Regions from separate parts of the Homo sapiens genome. Here regions 1 and 2 are each linked to region 3. The links come from fine-mapping of genetic effects on gene expression. A gene starts in region 3. Each other region holds a variant in brackets. All regions are shown on one strand. Distances are between the middles of the regions.

Region 1 (2,765 bases), 110 kb after region 3:
GTGGTTTAACAGGGCAGGAAGCAGACAGTGTGACTTGTACAAAAATCATTCTGGGCCATTCCTGAGTACACCTTGATCATCATAGAGTCACAACCAAGGGATGTTCTTGGAACATCCTGACACATTTGACTCTAAAACAGACTTGGAGTCCAAGCTTCAGGATGCATTTTCATCCTTGAATGGGCTCCTTTTCCACTGTGCTTCTTTGCTGTCTGCACATTCCTGAATGCCTGGTCAGGTCAAAAACAAGCTCATTTACTCCCTACAGCACACACCATTTACTGAGCTGACTTCCTGTGTGGCTCCCCTGTGTGTCCAGAGTTACTATGTTACTTCCTTTCCTCCCCACCCCAGCTTCCACAATACTTGTCTTTCCACCTTCGGAAGTCAGCCTTCCATACCTGCAGTTCTTGGCACTTTTTTGGCTCAATTATTACTGTTTTTCTTGAACTTTGTAGTTTGCATTTTGATAAAAATGAAAAAAATTTGATCTAGTGTCTTCTATCTCTGCAATATTTTTGCACCGTTTTGTTGGAAAAAACGTTCTACTTATTACTCATGCCTTGACTCTGATGCCTGAGCTCTGCAACAGTTAGGAAAAACACTTAGGAATATGTGTCATTCATAACTGCATAGCATGTAAATAAAATTTTATTATGTTTCATATTTTGAGAAATCTAAATATTTACGTAAAGGCTTTTGCTTCTAATCTTTTGTTTCCCTAGAACTTGCTATGTACCTGGATTCACAATTTACTGAAAAATAGAAGATTCCATATTTTTACTTTAGTAGTTGTCTATTATTACAGTTTTTTTCCCTTTGTGTTCTTCTTGGAATTAACTACTTTTTCTTGTCTTAAAAATTGTAGAGAGCCCCATGTTTTTTCCATATTTGCACATCAGTTACAATTCAAATTATGTGAATGTTTTGATACTTACTTTTCGTAGTGTAATTCTTCAACTTTATTGTTAGACAGTAAACCTTTCTTGCATCCTGCTAGGCGTAAAGGTTGAGAGACCATTAACCCAAATGAGCCTGGAATACTCTCCAATCTCAGTAAATGACAACCGTGTCAGGGGAGGAATAGGCTATTTGGGAATTCCCATACAGTAAGTCAATCTCACTTGCTGTCCAAGGCAACTTTCAAACACCCTTACACATGAACAAGAATTTGAGCAAAGATCCTAATCTGACTGCTTTTATTCAGATCTTGGACAAATAATTTAACTTCAGCATTTTAACTATCTGTTTTTATTTAGGCCAGTTCCGTTATTTGTTACATATTCTTTCCAGGCTAGTGATATTAGTTTCTCCCTTTTTCCCCATTATGTGGTAGAATGTCTTCTGCCAAGAGATAGGAAACCTGGATTTCACAGCAGTAGAGACTGGCACTCTTTTCTCTAGTATTGCATTCTAATAGTACCATATTGGAGTTTGACCTACTTATTACACACAGGCAAATGTTGCCAAGTC[A/G]GTGAGGTTTTCCTCCAAATAAAGGGCCATGGTCTTGCATCACACATGGGAGGTTTGCATGCAGACCAGATTATCTGGGAGCTAACTGCCAACCTGTGCCACTGTGCAAGGGAAGAGTGCCTGGAGCCATGTACAGATGTGGTTCTCATTCCAGGCCTAATTCTTCAGAACTTAACTTCCGTGAGCTCCTGCTGGACTCCACCAAAGGCAACAGAATGTGGGCTACAGAGAACAAGTTGCTTTTTGTACATTTTTCAGATGTTTGCAATGATGACCAGGTTTTCCTGACTATATTCCACTGGACCCCACTTCCCCTTTGTTCTTCTGAGAAATTATATATATATATTTTTCTCCATGCACAATTTTCCTCTAGCAATAGCCCTGGTTGTCACCCATAGTATAGTCCTCATTGAAAGTAAGAGAAATTGAATGGACCTAAAGGACTCTGTGGCTGAAATGAAAAAGACATGGCTCAGCATTTTCATATAGTTTTAAATACTCTTAAAGTTTATTGATTTGAAATAACTGAAATTGCAAATATAAGAATTGGATAGTGATATCAGCCTAAGACATGGATGTGTCTTTGTTTTCCTAGCCCTTTATTGCCCTGGATAGGAAAGGTCTCATGGCAGTCACGCTGTTTGTGCTTAGAATTCCTGGTTAAATGCACTGGATGAAGGTGCATTGAGATGGGTTACATCAGCAGCATTCATTCTGCTGGTGAAAAAACCTGCCAATTAGGAACTTCAGATACTGGTAATAAACCTTCATGTGTTCCACAGTGGAAAAGGGGAAAGGAATGATAAATATCACGTTTCATATAAGTATCAAAAAATATGTTTTCAAAAGTGAGAAGAAAAGGAGAAAGTGGTGTGTGGTAAAATTGTGTAGCTTCTGTGCTAATCGATAATGAAGAGGAGAATTAATCACATTTAATGAACACAATGTACAAGTTATACAAATGATTGCAAAATGAAATCTTATCAGTTTTTAATGAATCATAGAAAACTTTTCAGTATCACGTAGTTAAAAAGCAGTCGATTCTTAACAAAATTAACATGAGCATTCTGACAAGCTGTGTGAGAACACAAATTCAAATCATTCCTCAGAGTAAATTAGAACAATTCTATCCAACTCCATATGTTCACAGGTATTTTTGTATTTGGTCTCTGTTCTGCCATCATTTCCTTTTAAACCATAAGGATTTTAAGCTCTAAACTAAAGGCTTCTATATTTTGTTGTTGCTGGTTCTTTTGGTTTTTTAAAATTTGTTTGCTAGGAATGAGGGACAT
Region 2 (2,765 bases), 290 kb before region 3:
GAGCTTTTCAAAGGAAAGAGGAATAGTCACAGAGAAAAAAAGAATAATTTGGAAGTTATGTAATGTATGTTAATAGAATGAGAAAACAGAAAATAGGGAGAATTTTGAAATATAGAAATAAAGTAGAAGAATAAACGGGGTCAAGAAATGAGAGCACTTTCTTAATAAAATAATGAAATCACAAATGCTAAAGTAGATAAAGAAGATAATGAGATATAAGAAGAGAATCCATTTGGACATATCTTTCAAATTTTAATTCTTTAGAAAGAACTATAAATTGTTATATTTGCATATTTAATCATTACTTTTTAAGCCTTTCAGTTCCTTGAAATTTTTTACTAAAGAATTGTCACTAAAAAGATGTGGAAGAAGATGTTTTGTATTGAATTTGAATATATTATTCACTTAATTACAACCTTCATGTAACAAAGGTTTCCTAATGTAGTCTCATCTAAAATTAATAGATATATACTCAGTGAATCCAAATGTTTAATGAGCTACAAGGTTTATTAACATTCCCATTTTATTTATTTTTAGCTTTATTAAAGCTCATCTACTGCCCACAGGCTTGTGATGCACATATCACATAATAAAAAGGCAAATTAAATTTAAATTCTTAGTGGCAGAATTTCCTACAAGCAAATGAATACCAACATGTCTACAATATTTCAGTACTGCCAGATTTTAAATTGAAGATTAAAGTTTTTATTTGCTTTTAATTAGTCTTATATTTACACAGCAAGAGAGAGAGTACAAACCAGTGCAAATGTTACCAACAAATCCATAAAATGAAATACTTTACATAAAAATGGGTGTAATTTCCACAACTCTGGAGTCTGTCTGTTGCTCAAATGAATACCTCCCTCATTTATTGACTGATGGCTGAAATTATTAGAAATTAATTTCTGTGAAAACACAAATGTTCTTAAGAGAGTAACACTTTAAGCTACTCTCAGTGAAATCATTTGAGATCCTAATCTACGTACACACTTTTATAGTTAGCTGGTAGGGGGCTGAGGAGGGAAGAAAGGAAAAGAGCACCCATGAGAGAGGCTGGAAGCACCCAAACTGACATTTGTCTGCTTCCCTAGATTATTTATATCTATTTGGGATTCTATTTTTTTCAAATGAACGTCTTCTCATT[G/T]AAACCATGACATGGAAGTCAGAGACCTAAACACTAGATAGACTTGTGCAAATCGTGGTCTAATTTCAATTCATTTGCAAGCATTTACTGAGTACCTATTGTGCACAAAATACTAAGCTAGGCTTTACAGAAAATACAAATGTAAGAAAGACACAGTGGCCAGGCTCTCAGACGCTTACAGTCTGGCAGAGGTCTATAACAAGTTCAAAATTCAGTAACTACGTAGGCGGTATAGCAAGATGGGTCAGAGAGTGGGCCCCAAAGTTAGACAGGCAGGCTTGAATTGTGGCTCCAGCTCACATGTAATGTAACCTCTGTGTACCTTGACCCTCAGCTGCACAATGGAAATGAATTGTTATGATGATTAATTGAATTAATACATGTAAAGCACTTAGAACAGTACAAGCAATAAGTATTACGTAAGGGTCATTTGAGAAAACTAAAAACAAAAAAAGTGCTAATGGAGTTCAAAAGACACAAGGTGGTGTTTGATAGGAAAAAATGACTTTCCTAAGATAGCATACAGCAGACAATATTAGTGACCCTCCCACCCTCCACCCCACCTATCATACACAAAAGGACTTCTCTACCTTTTCAGAGAGTACTTCTGCCTTTGTGGAACCTGACAGCTTCAGTTCACATGTGGTTTGTACTGGAACTTATTCTTTCCCTTTTATTTGCTCTTCCTCCCTGGTCACAATGGGAACAACTTGCACTAAAACTGTCATTGTATAACAAAAATATGTCAACGTCCCACACACAGTCTTTGCAAAAATGTCGGGGTGGATTTTTAAGATGCGAGTATCATGAGTATGCTTCCATATTCATTTATTTTTAATACATGAAGAAATTAGTTCTCTTCTGCTAAGGGAATAGAGAACATGAGTTTAATTTGGTCAGATCATAGTCTTGGTTTTTTAGGATGGCATTGATATTGGTGTAGTTAGGATTCAACCAAATAGTCTAAAACAAATCAAAACAATTTATCGTACTTACACAAAGTAAAATGGTAATTTGACACAAAGTCAAATGTTTGTACATTATATAAAACTTACTTAGAAATAAGCCTTTTTAAATACTACAATATATGAATTTTAATATTAACTTCTTAGATTTCCTTTTTCTGAGAGAAATAGGGACAGTTGGTTGAATTTTTAGTTGTGTCCCCTAATATGATATGTTGAAATACTAACCACCTGCACCCCCCACCTCATCCCTGTGAATGTAACCTTATTTGGAAATAGGGTCTTTGCAGATGTAATTAAGTTAAGATGAATCATGCTGGACTAGTGTGGCTCCTGATCAAATGACTGGTATCCTTATAAGAGGAATATTCAACACAGAAATAGACCAGATTAGACACACAGGAAAAAAGGCCATGCAGCGATAGAGGCAGAGAGTGGAGTGATGCAGCTATCAGCCAAGGAATGCCAATGATTGCCAGCAAATACCAAAAGCTAGAAGAAAGAAAGAATTCTTCCCCCAGAGACCTCAGAGGGAGAATAGCCCTGCAGATACCTTGATCTGAGACTTCAAGTCTCCAGAACTGTGACAATAAATTTCTGTTGTTTTAAGCTACCTGATTTGATATACTTTGTTACGGCAGCTCTAGGGAGGTAAT
Region 3 (2,765 bases):
ATGTTAGGAAACTGAGGTGCAAGGATTGCTGGAGGCCAGGAGTTCGAAACCAGCCTGGGCAACATAGTGAGACACCCATCTCTACAAAAAAATTTAAGAATAAGCCCCACATGGTGGTGTGCTCCGCTTGTAGTTCTAGTTACTGAACTCCCACCTCGGCAACAGAGCGAGACCGTCTTAAAAAAAGTATGTGGAAGAAAAAACATGCACAGTAGATTTAGTGTTATTGTGATAACCCTAGCACTTCAGTGGAAAAAATATAAACAATTTCAATGAGTAGACAATAACACATATAACCAAGATTTCAAATATACCTTCTAGCCCTTTTGAGAAGTCAAAATTGAACAACCTGAATGTACCAGCTTTTTTGAAAAAAGTTTTGTAGACACGCGATCCCCAAAACCTGCCGTTCAAACAACTCCAAGGGTCTTTAAAGTACTAAATCCCTTTGTATTTGTCCTATCGGTCCCTTTGGTTTCCAGGAAAGCATTAAAAATAAAAATAAAAACTCTCTGCCTTAATTTTATTTCACGACTTTCTTTTCTCTTATTATAGCTTTCCACATTGCTTTAGAAGAGTTTACATCTAACTCTAGTGGTCTTCGGCTTCTTCTCCCTCTTTGACACAGAGGACTAGTTTCAATTGTACAAATAGGCTGGACGCTTCAGCGATTATCTTCCGACCACTCCCTGTGTGCTCGCGCGGGCGGAGTAGGGGGCGCTTCTCCACTCTCCGCGACCTCAATGTATGCGGAAATCCTCCTGCCTTTGTGCACACGTTTATTTAGAAAATTCTCTCCACCCCCACTCCCGTCCGTCCCGCCCCTTCTTCTTTTGCTTATTCTCTGAGTTTTGCCTCTCCTCCCACCCCGACTCCACCGTAATCTTAACCTACCCGTACAGATTCCACTTTCCCACTTCGGAGCTAGAGTAATTTAAGATCCCCCCATTATTAGCTCCACGTCGCCTTTAAAAGCCATTCAAACGAGTTCGCCTTCCAGGGTTCTGCAGTTGTGCTGCAGCAGCATTTCCCTCCTCTCCAGTATCAGACGTTAAAACAAAGCAAGCCACAGTGTGTGTCCACAGACGACCTTGGAACGAAAAGCTGCCCTGTTTGGGATCAATGCTCAGGGAACCCAGTCCACTCCCGCACTCACGTGTTCCCGCCTTGCCCTCCAGCTAGTTCCCCCGCGCGCAGGATCGCACTACTCCCTCTGCAGTCTCGCCTGCCGACTTCCTTCTGCGCGCCTCGTAAAACCGGGGAAGTTCAATCATTCCGCAGCGAGCCGCGGCGGCCGCACTGGGCATGCTCAGTCTCCGGGCTCCGCTCGGCAGGCGAGAGGCGTCCTCCGGCTCTGGGCTCCGGTCGGTGGGTGCCTCGGCTCGGCTTTCCCCGGCGCTGGCTGGGCTCAGCGGCCCCTGAGCCCAAGCGACACACGCCCCGCGGTCCCCGATCCGGCCCCTGGGAGAGCCGCGCCGTTCTGGAACCCGGGAGCCCCCAACTTCGCGCCAAGTTCGGAGCCGCCTTCTGAGGGAGACATGAAAAAGATGAGCAGGAATGTTTTGCTACAAATGGAGGAGGAGGAGGACGACGACGATGGGGATATCGGTGAGCGAGGGGTCCCCGCGTCCCCACCCGAGAGCCCGAGCCGACGCGGGAAGAAGTTCGGGGACTGCGCGGGGGCGCTGTGCTCTCCGCGGGGGAGGTTGGCCGAGACGCTCGGCCGCTCCGGGCAGGGGAGGAAGCCCGCTGTCCCCGGCTGCTTGCAGACTGAGGCCCCGGTGCGGCCCCTGCGGGGCTGAGGCGCGGGGCGCGTGGTGGCCCCGAGGACAGGCTCCTGACGGGCGGGGGATGCTGCCCCTGAAAAGCCTGGCAGCTGCGGGGACGCCTCTGCGTGCGGAAGTCTCCACTCAGAAGCAACTTTGGGGTCACTTCCCCGACTCGCAGAGTGCTAGGGTTGCCCAGGAGCCTCGGCACTGGGGCGAGCCCCCTGGGCGGGGTCCGGGGAGCAGGCCCGCATTTGGAGGACAGGGTGTGACCCATCTGAATCCTCGTTAAAGTAAAAGCCGACCGACGGCTCTGGGAGGTTTGAGGCCTGGCGGGGCGGCCCCGGGAAGTGATTTGTGGCCGCTAGGCGCGCGCTGGAAACCCTTTCCCATCTGCGGAGCCCACCGGAGCTGTGATCGGAGGAGGAATTCCCCCAGGCAGGGAGGACCGCAGGGCCTTTTTCACTCGTCCTGAGGGGCCCTGGGGCTTGGGGAGCAAACCTGGGGTGACCCATTTCTAGTTAGAGTTAAAAATGCATGGAAGTGACAAGACGAACGGAGGGAGAGCTGTTTTAAGAGCAAAAAAAGAAAAAAAGGGCAAACAAAAGGGATGAGAGGAGGTGAGGAAGGGGAAAGGAATGAGAGGACTAGAGAGAAAATCAGGTCCCTAAAGAGAACACTGTCGGGGGATGATGATATAATGTGTCCCTCCAGAAGACTCTAATTAAATTACCAAGCCAGTCTGTTGTGGCGACTCGGCTTAGTCTCCTGGATGCCAAATCAATTTTAAAGCAGAACATCCTGCTGATGTTCTAAAGCCCTGTTGTTATCTAATAACTTTAAAAGTAACTTAATTTTAGGAGTTGGGTGTGGTTTTTATTTCTGTTACATTTTGGGCACGGAATATTTCGATCAAAAAAATTTGGTAACTTCTTGGTTGTCCAGGGACAAATCGAATAGAGGAGATTACACTCCATGATTTAGTTTCACATTTCATTC

What was found. PIP is the estimated chance that this variant, and not a neighbour inherited with it, causes the effect.
Region 1: its variant is the best candidate, but not a certain one, in a credible set for the expression of ANO6 in skeletal muscle (GTEx, PIP 0.72).
Region 2: its variant is the best candidate, but not a certain one, in a credible set for the expression of ANO6 in whole blood (INTERVAL, PIP 0.54).

What each region holds. Positions count from the first base shown.
Region 1 is chr12:45,327,949-45,330,713 of GRCh38, forward strand. The region is part of intron 2 of ANO6 (anoctamin 6); the gene reads left to right. Among named protein-coding and RNA genes, the nearest start is that of ANO6, 110 kb to the left of the region's middle. The variant A/G (reference allele first, on the strand shown) is at 1,474.
Region 2 is chr12:44,920,056-44,922,820 of GRCh38, forward strand. It overlaps a transcript of NELL2 not described here. Among named protein-coding and RNA genes, the nearest start is that of NELL2, 45 kb to the left of the region's middle. The variant G/T (reference allele first, on the strand shown) is at 1,145.
Region 3 is chr12:45,214,784-45,217,548 of GRCh38, forward strand. It overlaps ANO6 (anoctamin 6), which reads left to right and starts at 1,312. Exons shown (of 20, transcript NM_001025356.3): 1 at 1,312-1,608. The coding sequence starts at 1,539. It also overlaps the pseudogene PLEKHA8P1. RefSeq lists enhancers at 1,078-1,177, 2,188-2,317 and a silencer at 1,638-1,947.